Linked DNA regions of Homo sapiens: region 2 is linked to region 1. The links come from fine-mapping of genetic effects on gene expression. A gene starts in region 1. The other region holds a variant in brackets. All regions are shown on one strand. Distances are from middle to middle. Region 1 holds the start of MTERF2 (mitochondrial transcription termination factor 2). Region 2 overlaps CRY1 (cryptochrome circadian regulator 1).

Region 1 (10,914 bases):
GAAACGTCCTAGTCAGGAAGAGGACACACAGAGTATTGGTCCTAAAGTCCAGAGACAGAGCACTAATTAGGTAAATATTTTAGAGCTGTATTTCTTGCTTTAGAAGAGTATATAATTAACATAAATTAAGATAATTTCAAAAATGGAGCAAATCTCTATTTTCAAACCAGAAAATCTTGAGGCATTAATTTTTAAGCAATTTTTACAAACTCAGTTAATTTTTGGTCAAGAGACATGCATCTGTACTGGAGAAATTGTTGCACCAGTTTTATATTCATCTGAACCAATGCTCTTTAAATTAGAGATGTTTATGATTTTGTGGTCAAGTTTTTTCTTAGAAAAAGACAACTTTTTTATTTCCTTACTATGTAACTATGAGTCTAAAACAATTAAAGTGGCCTGTTTATTTTAGTGACATTAATATAATCTTTTTATGAACTTTCCCCTAAATCTTTGCCTCTTAAATGTTGATAAATTTCTTTTATCTGTTATGATGCTTCTAAAATCTAAATTATTTCCAATTTGGGAATAGTTCAAAATTTTTTAAAATGCTGGCCCTTATTAGAAGTATCAGAAAGCCTTGCCTGCATTCAATTTAATTGGATTTGGGATGTCATTTTGTGATTTAAATTAATATGAAAAATATTTATACGTTGGATTTGCCAGTTTTTAAAAATTTTCTGTTTCTTCAGTTTCTAACACTGTTTACATTTTTTATTGCTTAGTTTTTTTATGTCAACCTAATTAGACTATAAGTATCTTGAAGATAAGGTCAATAAACACTCATCACATTTTTGTCATTGAATTATTTGCAATCAAGCTTTACCTAGTTTTTTTTTCCCCCTTAAATCACAGAAAACATTCAGGAGGAATACTGTTGCAGCTGAAATTGGTGGGGAGTTCAATACTTTTCAATTAAGTTATTTAAAAATATTCTTCATTGATGGAAAGCAGTTACATATTGAAATATGTTGTTTCTAATGACATTTCTGTGGTTTTTAACTTTTTAATGAATTTCACAGAGGACAATTGGTAATTTGTATATAAAGAACTTGGCAAGAGAATTTGCTTAATGTAAATATAAACAGTCACAATTAGTATAGACCCATCGATATATTTTTGATAATTTTTCATGTATGGTAAAGTTAAAATGACAAATTGATATTCTGATATAAAACTCAAAGTTTTGAAGTCAGTGGGAAAAAAGGAGGTTTTTAGACTTTCTTAAAAGACGTTAAAATTTTAGGACAGAATTTTCTTGATGTTGTTTGATCTAACTTTGCACTCTTTGATAATAATGTTTTAGATAATGTGCGTAATCCAAATTGGTATTGTAGCCTCTGTTAACACAGACAGTATATGTTTTAAACTTTGATGTAAACCTTTTTAGACCCAAACTTGTGGAAGTATCATGTGTTAAGTTCTCTGTCTCTGTTTCTTTGTTCATTTATTACTAAAATGAACTTGTTATTAAAGTATATGCAAATATGAAATCTTGTGTACGTGTTTTTTTTTCTTTTTTGGTAAGGGAGAGAGTATTGCTGTATGATATATGATTACAAATTACAAAGAGATTCTATAAACCACATCATCATTTTGAAGGAACAGCTACCATATGTTTAGTTAAACAGTGTTTTTCAAAATTATATGCAAGAAAGAGGTAAAACTAAAGGGACTTTTTTCAAGTAATGGCATTTGTAACCATAAATCAGGCAGTATGGGCTAGCAATCAATAGAGTGAGCTCTCGAGTCAAATGCCCATTTCTGCCATTCATTAGCTTTGAGGTCTTGAGCAAGTTTAACCTTCTATGTCTTCTTTCTTCTTATCTATAAAATAGGGATGAGGGTAGTATCTGCTTTATAGTTCAGTTCCATGTAAAATACTTATGAGCTGGCATGTGATAGGGTACTCAGTGTTAGCCACAGGGCTGCCATGCTGTGTCACCCCCTGTCGTGTACAGTGCACAGTCTGCATAGCTGTATGCCACAGCTCTGGTTAGCTGCCATTATTTTTATTAGTATTGTTATTATCCCTTTAGTGTTCTCTAGTAGGTTAGTTCTTGCCATTCTGAATTATAACCAGTGGCTTTTCATTTTCCCATCATTAATCATGATAGATATTTAGTATGATAATTTAAAGATAACTGAAGATAAAAGTTGAGTAAAAATACAGAAACGATAACATTTTAGATGATATGCATTTTTAAAAATATCCTGGATAGTGAATTAACAATGATCAATAAATTCCATTACTGAGGCTAGGTGTGGTGGCTCACGCCTATAATCCCAGCACTTTTGGAGGCTGAGGTGGGAGGATCACTGAAGCCCAGGAGGTCAAGGCTGCAGTGAGCTATGATTGTGCCACTGTACTCCAGCCTGGGTGGACAGATCAAGACCTCATCTGAGCTGGGTGTGGTGGCTCATTGCCTGTAATCCCAGCACTTTGTGGGGTTGAGGCGGGAGGATCACTTAAAGCCAGGAGTTTGAGACCAGCCCTGGAGACTTAGCAAGACCCCATCTCTATTTTTAAAAAATCAATATAAAAATAAAAAAAAAGTAAAGAAGACCAGGCAGGGTGGCTCATGCCTATAATTCTAGCACTTTGGGAAACTGAAGTGAAGCAGGAGAATCACTTGAGGCATGAACCCAGGAGGCGGAGTTTGCAGTGAGCCGAGATCACATCACTGCACTCCAGCCTGGGCGACAGAGTGAGACTCTGTCTCAAAAAAAAAAAAATGATTAGCCTGAACAACATCTTGGGACCCCATCTCTACAAAAGGAAACAACAAAAATATTAGCCAGGTGTGGTGGTGTGCACTATGGTCCCAGCTACTTGGGAGGCTGAGGTGGGAGGATGGCTTGATCTAGGGGATTTGAGGCTGCAGTGAGCTATGATTGCACCACTGCACTCCAACCTGGATGACAGGGTGAGACCTTGTCTCGGGGATGGGGCGGCAGGTGGGAAATCCATTACCGAGAAAAAGAATAAGAAAAAATCCTGTGCTTTATCGTTCTTTTTTCACCACTGTTAAAGTGAAGTAATATTTTAATTGTTTTTTATGGTAAGTGTACCTCACATCCTACTCTTTGGACCTGGTTGTACAGTGCAGAGTTGAGAAATTCATAGACCTGAGATTTACCATCACCGTACAAGAGGTCATAGATTTCAGTTTTCTTGTTGTTATTTTGAGACAGAGTCTCACTCTGTCGCCCAGGCTGGAGTGCAGTGGCACGATCTCGGCTCACTGCGGCATCTGCCTCCTGGGTTCAAGCGATTCTCCTGCCTCAGCCTCCCGAGTAGTTGGGACTACAGGCGCGTGCCATCACGCCCGGCTAATTTTTTGTATTTTTTAGTAGAGACAGGGTTTCACCGTTAGCCAGAATGGTCGCGATCTCCTGACCTCATGATCCGCTGGCCTCGGCCTCCCAAAGTGCTGGGATTACAGGCATGAGCCACCGCGCACGGCCAAAGATTCAGTTTTAATGTGAATAAATAAACAGTAAAAGAACACTATCTCAGCATAAGCACTGGTATGCTATTTATAAATGTAAGAGGATTTTTTTTTTATTAGGGAGTTTTTTGGAAAGCTTTTTCAGTTTGGTGTAAATAGTGGTCAAAATGAATCACTGAAAGGGAAAGAAAAGGCATCAGTCATCATGCTCTACTTGAGCAGATACATGATGTTCGAATCAGTGTTCTCCCCTTAACTAGAAATCCTACTTGTGGTTAAGGGATTTAAGACATTTTACTCATTCAGCAAATACTTCTTCAATTCTTATTGCCAAAAACTGTACTGACAACTTGGGAAAATTATATTGAGAGAACCAGGGTTTTGAATGAACTGTACAAAGTCCTTATGTTTTTCATATTTGCTTAAAATAAATAAGTAAATTTGAGATATAAAAGTCTATCAGTATTTTTAATGCATCTCTTACATACTAGAAATTTCAGGATCTTCTCACAATTCAAATGTGTTTGTAATTTTCTTGTACATAATATGCATAATTGTAAGTTCTTTTCCCCTTTTCTTCATTCAAGGTTTTTTTTCTGATTATATGGTCCTAGAAATGCACTGTTTAAATATTTGGGCTGGAAAAAACTTTGAGTAGCATTTATTTAATACAGTTGGCATAGCTGATTTGTCAGTTTCAAGTTTTGATTACAATGCACGGGGTCATATGTATTGTAATTCCTTGCACAATTACGTGGAGCCCTAATACAAGCTTCCAGCACCCTGGTGCACATTTCTGCTCCCTCCCTCCTGACCAGTGATGGCAGCTTGCAGTTCTAAGTCCTGAGTTTACATTCCTTAACTTCCTTTTCTGTATCCTAATTTCCTTTTCCTAAGTGCAAATGACACACTTTGGTTAGTCTGGACCCCAAATCATTTTATTTCAGGAAAAAGTGTGCAATAAATCTATGCATAATAGAGTTTTTATATTCGGATAACTCAGGAGTTGCTGGACAAACACCCCCCAGCTGTACACATGAGTTGCTCAGATCATTCTAGAATATCCTAGAGATCAGAGGTGGGTGATCTTGAGGAGCCAGGATTCTTGCTGCTACTCAGTGGAGTTAAATGCACGTGTGAGCTCCTCTCAATATAGCCTGTTGAGCCTAAACTGCATAGTGAGACTAGACTCAAAGATTTAGTTAACATTTCCTGAGTTCCTACTGTGTGCCCAGCATTGTTGACAGAAAAAATAATCAGTAGCCTCAAGGAATTCACTCCACAGGGTGCGAGGGCAGTCTGTATGCCAGTGCCACCGACGGCAGAACTGTGCACAGTGTGCTACGAACACCTGACAGCAGACACCTCCAGCTGGGAAAACCAGTTTTCCTGACTCCAACTCCACACAAACAGAATCACCAGGCCCAGCTCAGGGCACCCTGTCCTCGATAACACTTAACTAGGTGTGATTAGTCACGTTATTAGTTGTTGATATCTCTGCCCTCCACTAGAATGTAAGCTCCATAAGGACAGGGAATGTGTTTTATTCCCCCTCTATTTTCTCATTGCTGTTTCAATATGCTTGGCACTTAGCAGGCCTGCCATAAATACTTGTTTTTTGGATGGATAAATGTGAAAATAAATGAGAGAGACATTCAGCCTGGCTTTAAGGAGAAATTAACGTGTTTAGTGTATGAGGTTGGGCATCACCGGTAATAATTAGAATGGAAACCACTTGGCAGTTTATCAGAAAAGGGGAGTATTTAGGTGAAGGTGGCAAGGAGGGAGAGAAAGGAGAATGGCTTTTAAAGACAGTCGCTAACTGCTGGGGTAGGGTGGGGGCGGGGAAGAGTTCAGATGTGTTTCAAAGAACTTTGGGGGTTTTTTAAACATTTCTTTTGTAAGTTGGTTCTTTACCTAACTGAATTATTTTGGGAACAGTGATTGGCTCTATCTTAAAGATATAGCGGTTTCTGTTACTTCTTTTTTTTCTTATATTTTCTAAGCGTCAAAGCTACTGGAACTCCGCTTCCTAAAATGCTGGGAAGGAAAGGGTGTGAAAATGCCAGATGCCCCCGCCAGCACAGGCTGGGCTGCCTGGAAAGCCGATTCCCACTCCGACTCGCCCTCGTGGTGCGGGGAGGGACGCGTAGTTGTGTCCCGCGCTCTGACTGGCTGCGTTGGGACGCGGGGGCGTGTCTTGGGGGGGCGGGGGTTGGCGGTCATCTCCCGAGCCCTGATTGGCCATGGGCGAAGGGACTGATGGCCTGGTTGGCGCTGCTGAGAACTGTCGGGAGCTTCTTGAGACCGAGGACCGAAATCCCGGCTCCAGGCCTCGGGGACTGCGGACTGTGGGGAGGCTGGCCGGAGAGAGAGGGAAGGACGGGGCCTGGCCCCCGGGACTCCCTGTGCCTTGCTTGGAGCTGACGCCGACGGGTGAGTCGCCCCCTTCCTCTGCTCCTGGGCGTGTTCCTCACCAGCGGCGCCGCAGCGGTCAGGGCCCGCAAAACCCCACGCCTCGCCAGACGCTCAGCTCAGCCTGCCGGGTTTCTCTGGAAAAGCGGAGGCCCCACAGTGAATGTGCGGCCTTTTGATCGGTCCTGGAGATCTTCCGTGGACCCTCGTTTTTCCTTGCTTATAAACGTTGGTCAATTTGAAACTGGCAGCAGGGCATATGTGTTACGAAAGAAGAACTTTATTGAAACCAGTGGTGGTGTAGAGAAGACCATACTAACCATAACTGTGTATTACAGAAGTGAATTTCACTCCCCAAAAATGCTTAAGAAACAAGCATCCTAGAACAGCCCACATTGTGATTTAACAAACATTTACCAAAAGCATTGCTATATGTGGGGGCACAGGGCTAAGAGCAGGCAGGACTCTGGAGCCAACCTGTGGGGTTTGAGTCCAAATTCTGCCGGTTTTTTGTTTTTTGTTTTTTTTTTTAGCTGAGTAACCTTGGGCAAGTTCCTTTACCTGCGTCTGTTTCCTCATTTTAAAATGAGTTGTTGTGATGATTTAATGATTTAGTATATGTGAAGAGTTTTCTGCATATTCTAAGTGATTTATGGTATTAACTCGTTTGATCTTTGCAGTCACCCAGGAGATAGTATCACCATTTTCCTGATGCCAAACTGAGGCTCAGAGAGGTGAAGTAACTTCTTCAAGTCACAACACAACTGTTGTCCAGGAATCAGGCAGTCTGGCTCTGCTAACCCAGTTTTACCCACTGCATTAATGTACCGCATCCACTTGTTCACTCAGTTTCACCTGACAAATACTAATTTTGTCTCTCTGTGGAACAAGTTCTTTGCTGGGTGCAGGGAATAAAGCAGAACACCGTTCAGTTCCTGCCTTCCCAACGCTTGTAAATCTAGTGCAGGTCATTCATGGCCGGGCTGCAGGGTGTCCATGAATCCTGCTAAAATCATTTGCGAAATGTTGTGAGCGTGGGTCTTTTCTTCTGGAAAGAGAGTCTGTGACTCTCAGGTTCTGAGTTGATCTGTGATCCAAACAGAGGTGTGAAGAAGTGTTGTTTTAGCAGATCTGTGCCTAGTATGCCTGATACACAGCTTGAACTTCAAACAAACAGCAACAAAATTCCTACTGGTTGGAAGAATGAAGAACTTGTAAGAGCATAATAAGTGCTGCAGTAGCGTCCGGAGCAGGGTGCTGTGGAAGAGCACACAGAAGGCCACCTGCCCAGGAATGCCTCCTAGAGGCAGTGAAGGCAGCTGGGTGAAGGATAGGGAAGCAGTTCATTGGAACACTGTGGTGACCAGTCTGTCCATGTAGTGTTGAGACAGAAACAACACGTGAACAGCTGCAGCTGTTGTACCACTTGTGCGCAAGTGTAAAAGTCCATGGTGCCATGAAATCATGTAATGGGGACAGGAGGCTTCATGTATTCGTGAAGGTTAGAAAAGTTTCCTTGAGAAAGTGACACTTAGGCCTAAAAGTTGGAGCATTTTGGGCATGGAATCTGGCCCACAGTCTTCAAAGACCACATGGTAGAAACCAGTAGAGCACCAGGGACTGACAGGAAGCAAATGCAGCTGGTGCAGGAGAGGGAAATGGGAATTAGGGTGGTGGCAGAGCCCAAAGAGGCCTTGTAGGCCATGGTAAGGCATTTCTATGTTTTATTTTACTTTGTCTTTATCCTAAAATGCCATTGGCAAGTTTATTGCAGGGAACTGACAAGATCACATTTTGAGAAGAAGTTGGAAAGAATCCCAAGTGGATGAACTGAATATCTGGATGAGGACAAGATCTGTGGGGAGAGACTGTAAGGTAAGAAGAAGAGAGGTCTAGAACCAAGCCTTGAAGGTGAGCTTGTATGGGAGACAGATAGAGGGTGGCGAGAAGTATAGAAAGGGAGAAGAATCAAAAAAAGTCGAGTGTCCAGGAAGTCAAATGAGAGAATATTTCAAGGAGAAAGTGGTCAACTCTGCTAAAAGCTGCAGAAGTCAAAAGAGATAAGGAAGGCTGGGTGTGGTGGCTCATGGCTTGTATTAGTCCTTTTTCATGCTGCTGATAAAGACATAGCCAAGACTGGGCAATTTACAAAAGCAAGAGGTTTAATGGACTTACAGTGCCACGTGGTTGGGGAGACCTCACAATCATGGCGGAAGGTGAAAGGCACATCTCACATCGTGGCAGACAAGAAAAGAGTGAGAGCCAAGCGAAAGGGGTTTCCCCTTATAAAACCATCAGATCTCATGAGACTTATTCACTGTCATGAGAACAGTATGGGGGAAACCACCCCTATGATTTAATTATCTCCCACTGGGTTCCTCCCACAACACAAGGGAATTATGGGAGCTACAATTCAAGATGAGATTTGGGTGGGGACACAGCCAAACCACATCACGCCTGTAATCGACACTTTGGGATGCCAAGGTGGGCAGATCGCTTGAGCTCAGGAGTTCAAGAGCAGCCTGGAAATGTGGTGAAACCCCTTCTCTACAAAAAAAAGAGATAAGAATGAAAACTACTCATTGGCTGTAACCACATGAAAGTTATCTTTATCGCAAGCTATATAAGTAGAAGAGGAAATGGAGAGAAAGAAGGATCTGCAAGAATTAGCTGAGGTGAAGAGAAAGATAGGGTTTGGGCAGGGAAAAGAAGAGCAGTGGAGAGAGAGAGGGTTTGGGCAAGGACAGGAAGAGCAGTGGAGTGATGGCTGGAGCATCAGAGGAGGATACACCTGAAGGAGCAAACACTTGAGAAAGGGCTTGAGAGTTCTCAGGCCAGAGAGGCTGAGCTCAGCACAGGAGCAGGAATGACCCTGGATAATGAAAGCTGTGACTGGATAATGAAAGCTGTGAAGGGGAGCTAGTGATAGGTTTATGTCTGCTGAGAGGAGCTGCTCTCCTTTCTTTGTACAGATAGGAGGCAAGGGCACTGGTTGTGAGTGAAGGTGGGTATGGAGGTAGGTGGGAGGCCAGAGGTCTGAGTTGAGAAGATTTGAGATAGTTGGTGGGAAGTGTGGAAGAGTGAGTCAACCAGAGCTGGTTTGAGGATGGTCTGGCAGGGGGAGCCAAGTATGCAGCAAAGACCAGAAATGAGCCTCTTGGCCCCTTTGGGGAATTGCAAAGTAGGGGGATGAGGATGGAGGCAAATTAGAGACAAAAGCTACATTTAACATATGATAAAGGAGGCATCATAAGTCATGGGGAAGGAAAGGATTGTTCAGAAAATGGTACTTGGAGAGAAGTAAACTATTGATAAAATCTATTTAGATTCTCAGCTCACACCCAGAAATTTCAAATGAACTTAAGGAGCTAAGTTTTAAAGTTCAAACAAAAATATGGGAGGAAATAATGGATGAATTTTTACTGATCATCTGGTACTTAAAAGCAGTAAGGATCATCAAGGAAAACTTCCCTGACCTTCCTTTGACCACGTGAAATTAACTGCTTTGTTCTAACAGATACTGTAATATGAACTTTGATAACATTATGCTAAATGAAATAAGCCAGACACGAAAGACAAATATTATATGACCCCACATATAAAAAGTACCTAGAATAGGCAAATTCATAGAGACAGAAAGTAAAATAGAGGTAACTGGTGTCTGGAGGGAAGAGGGTATGGAGAGTTATTGTTTAATGGGCACAGAGACAGAGTTGGTGTTTGGGATAGTGGTCATGGTGGTACAACATTGTGACTATACTTTAAGCCACTGAATGGTACACTTGAAAATGGTTTAAATGGTAAATTTTTTGTTATTTATATCTTACTACAATTAAAAAAGGGGCTACTTTGGTATGCTAAAATATACCATCAACAACTGAAAATGAGCTGAAGAAAATATTTTCAAAAATGAGATTATATTTCTTAATTCATAGAGTTTATACAAGTCAATTTTTAAAAAGCAGAACGATTGCAGTTTTACAAGTCAGGAATGGTTGATTCACAAAAGGAAATAAAGATGAACGAAATAGTTTAATTATGAAAACATCACCCTTATAAATAATAAAAAGAAGTTAAATTAGTGTTGTATCATTTTTTACATATCAAAATAAAAACTGATGAGAGAATCACTCATACTGCCTGTGAGAATGTCAACTGAGATAGTTTTTCCTGACAGGAAATTTAGCAGCTTTGCTTTCCCAGTGTTCACGTATCTCCTCTTCAGTCAGGAAATCTATTTCTAGGAATTCATCCTAAAGGAAAAGCATATGAGATGTGGACATTTATTCAGCATATAGCAAAAATTACAAATAGCCTAAATGCTCAATATAAGGAATGAATTACAAAATAACAGTATATCCATCCCATATACCAAGCACTCAAATGTTTACAGAGCATTTTTAATACCACAGTTAGATACTTACTGTGAATAAAATAGAAGCAGAAAGATAAATTAGATACAAATATATGTATTATGTGTTCATTACATAGGAGTCACAACATTCATACTTTTCACTTCCATAGTCAGTTGTGTTTGCTCATCAGAGACTAAGCAAGGCAGATTAACTAGTAAAGACGACTCATCTGAACACATCACAGTTCATAACCAACTACTTCATCTGTGTGGTGTCTGCATAAGAGATTTTCAAGAAAAATTCTGAGTCTTTGTAATTTTCACTTTATAGGCTGAATTCAGAACCTCAGTACCATGTGTAGGGAAGGTAACACACAGGAGACCAGTAATACACTATCTTTCAGCAAGTCCAGCACAGCCAGGAGTTCCTGGGGTTTGGAACCCCAGGCTAAGCACTAGATGCTGCAGTTGGCTTGGTTGGGGGTTACATTATACAGAATGACGGATCATTAAACATTAGAAGGACATCGACCATGGCAAGGCACATCCACTGACAGAGGCTCCTGCACAGTGAGGCTAAGGGAACAGCAGCTGTCTGCATTTCCTGCTTACTCCAAGCTGAACTGTGATGTGTTCAGGTCACACATCATCATGTATGCCAAAATATGAACAGTTGTCTTCAGTGGTGGGGAT
Region 2 (10,914 bases), 89 kb before region 1:
TAGATATCTTTATAGCAACACCCCATTCCTGGTACCAGTTTTTTGTGTTTGTCTGTCCCCATGACTCAGATACCTCTTGCTAGGCTCCATCTGCAGTATTAGAGATCAAGTTTTAACATGGGATTTGAAGGGGACAAATATGTAAACTATATCAGGCACTAATCCCTCTCATGACAGTACAATGCATATGACCAAATAACTTCCTAAATGCCCCACCTCTTAATACTGTAGCATTGAGGATTAGGTTTTAACATGAATTTTGGGGGAACATAGACATTCAGACCATAGCAGGGATGTATTCTGTATATAATCTCTCTCTCACTTAACAGATAGTACCTTCCTGAAGAGAAGTTGCCTCTTAAATCAAAAGTTTATTTTGTGTCCCTATCCATTATAGGCAGTATTATTGATGCTGGGTATACAGTATTGAATAAAACAGAAAAAGTTGCTGCCCTATTCCAGTGGGGGGAAAACGGACAGTAAGACAAAAATAATGTATCAGGTGGTGGTAAATTCAATGGAGAGAAATAAAGCAGAATGTGAGAACAGGGACCTAAAGGAAGAGGAAACAGGCTATACATGTATCTGGGGAAAGAGCCTTTTTGTGTTCTCCACAGCATAGTGGCTTATACATAGTAGGCATTAAATATTGTTTTAATTTTTCTTATAAATCTAAGGTTGAGGGATAGGACAGCTACTTTATATAATTTATATGTTAATGTCTATCTTAAACTCATAACTTAAAAAAAATTCTCAATGAACAGATTTGTTTTAGAATTTAAACTTCAACATGTTCATTACACATTTGAAGCTATGACTTGTAAGCTCTCTTAATTTTCAGTAACCAAATCTATAAATGTGCCTACATCCTTACTAGTTCTTCCTTCTAGTATACAACTTCAGTGGAAGAGATACTGCTGTCTCTTTTCAAAACGAGTTTCTTCTTCTGTGCTCCATTTCAAAGACTTTGCTCATTTTTTATATTTATTCTTACCTTTTCTTCTACTTTTTCTTCTTTTTAGGTTGCCTCCAATCAACATTTAAACATGCTTAAGATCAAATTCTGTAAAACATACACAACCTGTAACAACAAAGGAACAGAACTTAGCATTAACTGTGTTCCACTCCTGCAACTATGTATCTCAGTTTCTTTGTAGCCAATTTCTTGAGCAAGATGTCTAATAGTGGCTGACTTCATTTCTTTATATTCTACTTACCCTTGAACCCAATCCAAACTAAGGCATGTCCGGCTTCACTCCCACCCACTCTACCAAAACTATTTTTATCCAAAGGATACTTTAAATCTGCCCATTCCCTGACTTTTTTCTTTTTTTCTTTTTTATTTTTTTTTAACAATGTTTGACACATTTGACCACACCTTCCTCTTCTTCCCTTGGCTTTATTAAAGGACTCTTCTGTGCTTTCCTGCCAGCGCTATTAGTGTTCTTCCTTAGCTTCTCCTTTTCTGTTCAACCTTTAAATGCCCCTGAGGTCTGTGATCTCCACCCTCTTTTCATTTCACATATTTCTAGGCAATCTTATCTCCTCTCATAAAGTCCGTTACCATTTACTCGTCTATGCCCAGAATTCTCAAGTTAGTGTCTTCAGCGCAAATCTCTTTCCTGATCCCCGGACGTGTGTGTGTGTTTGTATGTATCATATATACCCATTTGCCTGCTTGAATATATGACATTACCTCAAACTCAGCTTGTCCAAAACAGAGTTCATCTTCATCCTTCTCTATTGCACAAAAACAAACAAACCCCAAACTGAGTTTTCCTGTGTTTTCTGTCTTCACAAATGATACTTCCATTTGCCCATTTGAGTCCTTACTGTGTGCCAATTACTTGCTAATTTCTGTGGATAGCATGATAGTCAACAGGTAATTTCTCTGCCCTCAGGGAGTTTATAGTACAGAGGAAGATTTATTCAGAAATAAAATAGTTACATAAATACATTCTTCCCTCTCCATTGTCTCTTTAGCCCATATCACCATTCTCTTTGCCTAGGTTGTTTGGGTAGCTTACAAATCATTGTCCCCCTTGCCCTTCTCTAATTCATTCGCTACACAGCAAGTAGAGTGATCTTTTTAAAATTGCAAATCTGGTCATGTCATTTATGCTTTAAAACCTTTTAATGACATTTCTTTACCCTTAGGTTAAAGTTCAAAAAGCCATAGCATGGTTTCAAATCCTTGTGTAATCTGGCCCTCTGCTTCTTTCTAGTCTCTGGTGATTATTTCACTGAGGCAGTTAAACTGAAACTTGAAGTGTAAAGTGGATCTTAATAAGCAAGGCATGGAGGGAAGGGAATTCCAAGCAGAGAGAAGCAAATTCCAGACTGAAAGAATAGCTTAAGGAAAGGCACAGTATTCTGATAGTGGTGAGGAGGCTGATGTAGCTGAGTCATGTGGTGCATGAAAAGATAGGAGATGTTGTTTAGTACTTTTTTGTTTGCTAGTTGGTTGCCTGAGTCAAACAGGCTTAAGCAAAAAGAAAGTTTATTGGTAGATGTAATTGAATAACCTAAGGGAAACTGGCTTTGGACATCGCTTGATACCAGGACTCAGAAGATGTTACCAGGATCACATTTCTCTTTGCATCTCTGAACTTCACTTATTCTGCCTTGACTTCTCAAATAGGCTGTCCTCTGGTGGCAAAATATAGCAATAACAATGGCATTTATCTCAGCAAAAAGCATACACCTTTGGCCCAGAAGTCTCAGCAAAAGTCTTATGGCACTTCATTGGCTCTTTTGGGCCAGTTTCTGAACTAGTCATCATGAGTTTATGATTGTCTTAGCTGAAGTGTGCTTCACTGGTGGAATCAGCTTGACTGAACTGAAGTAACTGAAGTAAAATGAGTAGGAAGTAGGTGGATATCCTAAAACAACATTGTTGCCTATTATATAAGAACTCAGATAAGTGGGTATAGTTCAGAAAAGCTGCCCTTGTTTGGGGAAATATAAATTTAGCAGCTGAGTGAATGTTAGAAGAGAGAGTCAAGATACTAGTTTGGAGACTTTATCAACAGTTCAAGTGAAAGATAATACAGGCTTAAACAAGGGGAAAGGCTATGAGGAAGGGGAAGATATAAGAGGAAGCCTGTAGAGGTACAGTGAAAAGCTTAGGTGACTGCCTGGAAAACACAGTTTCACAGAGGAGGAGGGTGAGGGAGAAAGTAGAGTGTAAGATCCTCATACTTTGTGCCTCTGTGACAATTAGACATTAAGTTAGGAAACACAGAAATAGACCATAGGTAGGTGAGGAAAAGAGTGAGTTTAGGTTGTTGACCAATTTGAAGCACTGCTAAGATATCAACATGAGAAATGGAGAAAATAGAAATTTCACTCTGGGAATTATAGACATTGGATCTGTGCATATGGGAATAATTCCTGTATAAGTAATGGATGAAGCATGCCTGGATGAGATTGGATACAGCCATAAAAAGTTATGTTAGTCAAAAGCCCAGTGAAAAAACTCAGCGAATACTATGTTTAAGATGAATAGGAGCTGGTGAAGGAGGCGAAAGAGAACCAGAGAGGTAAAAAGAGGATCCAGGAGAGTGCCATATTATGGAAACTGAATGTGGCAAGAGTGATTTTACCTTGCACTACAGGAGGCAGGTTAGGATGAGTTTTGACAATTATGTAGGAAAAATTATCAAAGACTTAGAGGTGGGAAAAGGAAATTATTGCATATCTAGAATGCTAGATGTTGTTTAGAGGACCCTCCAGGAGTTATATGATTCTGATTAAGGGATATGCATCTTTGTATTTGATTGACAAGGCTGTTTCACAACTCTGTAAAAAGGGATAAAAGTTAAGTTGTAGAAAACTGAAAGCAGTACAAATGTTTTCTGCCCATACCAATGCAAATTATGTTTGTGCCATGAAAATGAATTTTGTAAGTTGAGAAATAGTAAATCAGATTCTTATTTGAATCAGTTTTAACATCTTATTTCTTTCTTCCTTAATCAATGAATTACGTAAATTTTTTGCCAGATCTTCATTTCATGTTTGTATGAGAGTCATAATTTTACTGTTTTGAAAATTATACTTTATCTGTTACAAAGGCTTTTGGTGAACTTTGAGATAACACTTCAATGTAGGTGTAAGGATAGAAATCAGATTGTATAGGATGTTAACAAAGGTGTGTGTAGCAGGTGAGGGGAGGGGAGTGGGGGAAATGATTCAGGTTGGAATGTGAGGGGGATTTTTTATGAGAGAGGTAAGAAATTAGCTCAAGGCATAGGTTCTGAACAGGCTGAGGAAAAGTGAATTTTGGTTAGATAACTAGACTTTTAGTCAAGACTGAGCATAGTGTATTCACAGGATGATAAATAAATAAAATATATAGATAACTTTTAGTCAAGACTGAGCATAGTGTATTCACAGGATGATAAATAAGAAATAAAATATATAGATAAGGTGAGGCCTGAATATGTAATTCTTTGAATGACAGACTGAAGTAAGTTTAGAACATCTGACTGTACTAAGACCTACTTTATAATTCTTACTTTCCTATTAAATGGCCGTGGGACTGACCTTGGGTAAATCTCTCTCCCTTCATTTAGTCATTCAGGAAAACATTCAGTGAGAGCCTGTTATCTACCAGGTACTGTGCAAGTCATTGGAGATACAAAGATGAAGGTTATGGTTCTTGCCTGTAAGGAAACTTTCACACCACTAAAGGACAATTAGAACATACAATGTTAAAAAGGACCTCTGTGGAAATCTGCAAATACAATTGTGAAAGCACAAAGGAAAGACAACTTTAAAGGGGTGGGAAAAGGGGTAAAGGTGATGAGTGTGAGTTCTAGAGGTGTGTGTGTGTGTGTTTGTGTGTATGTGTTGGGGAGTGCTGGGTGTGAGATATGAGACTGAGAGAGGAGGAATTCTAGAATGCTTCTGTAGTAGGCCGTTCTTGCATTGCTATAAGGAAATACCTGAGACTGAGTTATATATAAAGAAAAGAGGTCTAATTGGCTCATGGTTCTGCAGGCTGCTCAGGAAGCATAGCAGC[G/A]TCTGCTTTTGGGGAGCCTCAGGAAGGTTACAATCATGGTGGAAGGCAAAGGGGGAGCAGGCATGTTGCATAGCAAAGGCAGAAGCAAGAGAGTCGGGGGGAGGTGCTACACACTTTTAAATGACCAGATTTCATGAGAACTCGCCATTGTAAAGATGTACCAAAAGGGATGATGCTAAATAATTCGAGAAACCTGCCCTTTTGATCCAGTCACCTCCCAGTAGGCCCCACCTCCAACACTGGGGATTACATTTCAATATGACATTTGGGCAGGGACACATATCCAAATTAGATCAGCTTCTTGAAGATACATGAGTCAGTGTACTTACATGAAAAGAGAGGTTTTTTTTTTTTTTTTTCTTTGAGGCAGGGTCTCATTTTGTCACGCAGGCTGGAGTGTAGTGGCATGATTTCAGCTCACTGCAACCTCTGCCTCCTGGGTTCAAGGTGATTCTCTTGCCTCAGCCTCCCGAGTAGCTAGTGGAATTACAGGTGTGTGCCACCATGCCTGGCTAATTTTTGTATTTTTAGTAGAGATGGAGTTTCACCATGTTGGCCAGGCTAGTCTTGAACTCCTGACTTCAAGCAATCTGCCTGCCTCAGCCTCCCAAAGTGCTGGGATTACAGGCATGCACCACTGCGTCCAGCCTGAAAAGGGAGTTTCTAAGAAATCGTCTCTTATGTGACACCATTGGAACCTGCAGTTACTTGAAAAAGGAAATCATTTAAAAAAAAAATAGAAAAGTGTGCATTAATTTGATAGTTTTTGATGTAAGGCTTGATTCCAGGTCTGAGTTCTTTTGCTCACTTCTTTATCCACATTTATTCTTTAGGTGATCTCATCTAGTTGCATACTTGAATACCTGATAATTTCCTATCGTGTATTACCTGCACTGGCCTCTATCTTGAATTCCAGATTTGCCTATCTAGTATTTTTACTTGGATTCAAAATAAGCATCTTAAGCTGATTTTGTCTCCATCTCCTCTACCTCCCATGGCTTCTCTATATCACAGTAAATGTCAACATTCACCTAGTTCTGCAAAAACCCAGGAGCTACCCTTTCTTCTTTTTGTACTCAAACTTCATATCTAGTCCTAAAACAATTGTTAGAGCTTTTCCCTTCAAATTAAATCTCATATCCATTCAAATAACACCCTCCCACTGCTATCATAATATCCAGGCCACCAGCATTTTTTACAAGATTACTGTAAAAGCCTCCTAAGTTTTCCACTTCCATTTTTGTGCCTACCTTTCCCATCTGTTCCATGTGGAATTCAGAGTAATATTTTTAAAACCATAGTTAGGTCTGGTGGCTCAATACGTGGCACAGGGTGGGTGTCAGTATGTCCTTGTGTATTGAATGTATAAATGAGTATTGTTCTGCTGATTTTGCTGATGGAATTTCAAGTTGACTTTCCTGTGTAAATTACACCCGCAGACTGATATTGCCTATTATTCGTTAAAGTTGATTAAAACCTTCAAGACCATGGTGAAGCAAACTTGAATACAGAATTCCTTTAGTACATTTTTTTCTTCCCATCTAGTTTAGCTGTCTTATCTACAGATAGTTAATTAGACAAACTTTTTTGGTGATTCACCTTTTATCAAGGCTTTTTGAAGCATTCAGTTTCATTTTCTATAAAACTTTACTTTTTATATTCTCAGTTTATATAAAATTTAAATTACGTGATGAAAATAAGTTCAGCTGGCATGAACGTGTTTGAGAAACACAACTGACTCTTCATATGTCTAGAACTTTAACTGATTGGAATAGGAATTGGACTTATTAGAAAGCAGTAGCCTATTTTATTTTTGTCAAACTGAAATTAGCCATGTCCATCAGTCAGCATGGCCTCTGTATGCTTTGCACAGGGTATAGAAGGCATTTGGTTATTTGTGTGAATTGATAAATTGGAGATCACTAGTAGTTTTTGTTTTTTGTTTTTTGTTGTTTTTTTTTTGAGACAGAGTTTCACTCTTGTTGCCCAGGCTAGAGTGCAGTGGCACGATCTTGGCTCACTGCAACCTCCACCTCCTCGGTTCAAGCGATTCTCCTGCCTCAGCCTTCCAAGTAGCTGGGATTATAGGCATGCGCCATCACACCCGGCTAATTTTTGTATTTTTACTAGAGACGGGGTTTCATCATGTTGGCCAGGCTTTTCTTGAACTCCTGAACTCAGGTAATCCACCCGCCTCAGCCTCCCAAGGTGCTGGGATTACAGGCGTGAGCCATCGAGCCCAGCTTAGTAGTTTTAATGTATGTTAACTACATAATTGCCAAGGTCCCTTCTAGTTCTAGAATTGTATGATTTCTGTGATGGTAATACCAAAATAATTTTTAGTATTATAAAAGATATAACGATAGGTTTTTGAAATTTGACATAAAATTCATTCTCAAATATTTTTATTTGGTTTGGGTTGCATATTTTAAATAATTGGATATTAGGGTTTCCTAGAGATTAAAAAATGCTATTTAAAAAAAAGAGAATTCTATTGACTCTGGTTACTTTTGCCATTTTTATCTTATCCTATCTGTCTTCTCAATAGCAACAGCAACAACAAATTAAATATCTTAATGACACGTATTTTTATTTAGTTTTCTTGTTTTAAGTGATGTAGGCCAGCAGGAGTTAAAAGGCTGTAATAGAATGACTTAATATTAAATTACTGTGCTACAGTGTATATGTCTTAGAGAATGTGCTGCCAAGCCTTTTATTGGTATTATGTATGGTATGGGGTCAGATTCTAATTTTGAGGTTAAAATACCCTTTTTAATTGTCTGGCTTAGTGTTAATATTTTTTGCAATTAGGGGCATAATTTGGGGTAATGTGGGAATAGAAAGGAAAGATTGAATGAAAGGAAGATAATTAAAAAGAAGAATAACCATCAGAGTAGAGTGACATGTAGGTTTTTGGAAAAGGAGGAGTCACTGATTATATTTTGAGATCCCATGAAGAGAGACATAACAAAGTTAAAAGGAACTAGTTTAGAAATTAGGATAAGCTTAATTTTAGGTGTATCAAAGTTTGTTTTAGGTGTATTGAGGTTAGGGTAACAGTGGGATATCCCGATACAGTTGGTTAGCAGGGACTGAAGCTAGGAAGAGAAGTTGGGACTAGGTGTGTATTTTTAATTGGAAACAGTCTTTTGAGAGGTGATAATTAAAATTAGGGTAATGGGTGAGAATACTGAAAGAGGAGCATATAGCAAGACAAAAGGAATGGCAGTCTTTTCTATTTTTTTGAAACGGACTCTGTCTCAATTGGTCGCCCAGGCTGGAGTGCAATGGTGCAATCTTGGCTCACTGCAACCTCTGTCTCCCGGGTTCATGCAATTCTTCTGCCTCAGCCTCCCTGGTAGCTGGGATTACAGGCATGCACCACCATGCCCAGCTAATTTTTTTGTGTTTTTAGTAGATACAGGATTTTACCATGTTGGCCAGGCTTGTCTTGAACTCCTGACCTCAAGTGATCTGCCCTCTGCAGCCTCCCAAAGTGCTGGGATTACAGGCATGAGTCACCGTGCCCAGCCAGTAATGGCAGTCTTTATGATTATGATTTTTAAAAAGTATATTTTAGGCCAGGCACAGTGGCTCATGCCTGTGATCCCAGCTGCTCAGGAGGCTGAGGCAAGAGGATCAGTTGAACCAGGGAGACAGAATGCAGTGAGCCGAGATCACGCCGCTGCACTCCAGCCTGGGTGACAAAGTGACACTTCGTCTCAAAAAAAAAAGAGAGAGAGAGAGAAATAAAAAAATATATTTTACATGTTAAACTTTTTTGTATTCAAACTTTTATGGTTTATATCATTAGCGATAAGCCTCAATGCCCCTTTCCCACCCAAAGATGATATAAATATTTACAATGTTTTTGTAATACATTTAGAGTTTTATTTACACATATAAATCTTTGTTCCATCTAGAATTTACATTGACACTGAGGTTACACTCTAACTTCTTTTTCCCCAAATGATGATCATTTTCCACAAAATGATGGCCAGTTATTCCAACACTACTTATTGGATCATTTCCAATTCAGTGAGGTAAGTAAATATAAGTGTTAATGTAAATTTTTAATATTTTACGATCATTTCTAGGCTATTTAATTTTTAAAATGTGGATTTTTTCTGATGAAAAATACAATCATAGTAAAGAATTCAAATGATACGAAGAAAGTGTCTGTGTAATATCACCCATAAGAAGATAAGAAATACAACACTGGTAGTAGTTTTAAAATATGAAAATATAAATGTGCATATATGCACATATGTGTTAATATGAATGTGTGTTTACATGGAAACTTTGACATCTCTATTCACAAGTGTGATTAATTCATATTTTTCTTTTGGGAGCTAATTTTGTTAATTTTAACAATGAGATCATGTTAGCCTTATAGTAACTTCCTATCCTTTTTATGCCCCCAACAGTATAAATAACATAGGACTTCTGTGTTCCATAAACCTTTGCTAGAATTCACCTATAAAGCAATTTGGGTCAGGGGTTTTTGAGAGGAGTCAGATTATTTTTATAGCAATTTCGAGATTCCTGTCCAGTCCACACATCAAACTGCCCACATCAAACCCCTAGTTAATACATGAATTTAGCCTCTAATTTAGTAGCTGGTGACTCTGTAATCTACTTTCATTCTTTCTCCTCTGGAAGGTTTATTGAGTCAATAATTGATACCTGAGCTAAGCTTTGCCCATTTGGAATTTGGAAAAGGGATGCAGAGACTGTAGTCAGTTGGTATTGGGCCTTGGCACTGAGTAGTCATAAAAAATAGATATCTTTGCATAGAAAGGTGGTTGTAGAAAGACAAAAGAATGAACACATATGCAGAAAGGAACAAACAAGAGAGAATTCAATTCCAAAAAGGAGTTGGGTTCTAACATTCCAGAATCCTTAGACTTGACTATACTACTTGAGCACAAGTTTCCATGAAATACTCCTATATTCTTCCAATGCTTTTTTTTGTTTGTATGACCTAGTTTGAGTAGATTTCTGTTCATTGCAGTGAAACAATTCCTGACTTAGATCATCTTTGACATACTTTTTATTTCATTTGTGTTTATTGGTTATTCTAGGTTTCTTGTCAGTCAGTTTGATAATTGAATTTGCTATTAATGCATATTTTCCTAAAATACCTGCCGTTAAATCTAGTCTTCCATTCTCACATGTATTGCTAAAGTTGTATACCATATCTTTTATTTAATAAGTACCACAATTGCTATGATAGTCCCTTTCTTACATTACTAATAGATATTTATTTTTTTCTTCTTTTTCTTTCTTCGACTTGCTAGATGTTTTTATACTTTATTGATCTTTTCAAAGCATAACTCCTATGGAAGGAATAAAGAATATTGTCAAAGAGTTACCTCCACAAAAAACATCAGGCTTAGATAGTTTCATAGTTGGGTTCTACCAAAGTTTAAGAAACATGTGACTTCAGTGATATATAAATTGTTCTAAAACATGATAAAAGAAGAGGAAACAATGTGTAGAATTATCAAATAGGATACAGAAGCATATTTTAAATGTATATCCTACATTCATGTTGAAAATGCAGGAATAATTCAGTATTGGAAATATATTAATATGTCATTATATTAGTAGATCAGAGTATAATTATATGATCACTTCCATAGATGCTGAAAATACTTTTGATAAAGTTCAATATTTATTCCTAATAAAATTTAGTACTAAACCAGAAATAGAAGGCTACCAAATCAGCTCAAAAGTCAGCATCATGCTTAATGGGTAAAATTTAGAAGTTCTACAAAGTCTGGAGCAAGATACAAATGCTGGCTGTCATCACTATTACTTATTGTGCCAGAGGTACTAACTAATGCAGTATAAAAGGTATAAAAATGGAAGAGGAAGTAAAATTTATT

What was found. PIP is the estimated chance that this variant, and not a neighbour inherited with it, causes the effect.
Region 2: its variant is fine-mapped to the expression of MTERF2 in whole blood (TOPMed, PIP 0.98).

Annotation. Positions count from the first base shown.
Region 1 is chr12:106,981,943-106,992,856 of GRCh38, reverse strand. MTERF2 (mitochondrial transcription termination factor 2) reads left to right here and starts at 5,711. Exons shown (of 3, transcript NM_001033050.3): 1 at 5,711-5,888; 2 at 7,632-7,742. CRY1 (cryptochrome circadian regulator 1) reads left to right here. Exons shown (of 13, transcript NM_004075.5): 12 at 1-70; 13 at 856-1,493. The coding sequence ends at 70.
Region 2 is chr12:107,071,087-107,082,000 of GRCh38, reverse strand. The region is part of intron 1 of CRY1 (cryptochrome circadian regulator 1); the gene reads left to right. Among named protein-coding and RNA genes, the nearest start is that of CRY1, 17 kb to the left of the region's middle. The variant G/A (reference allele first, on the strand shown) is at 5,024.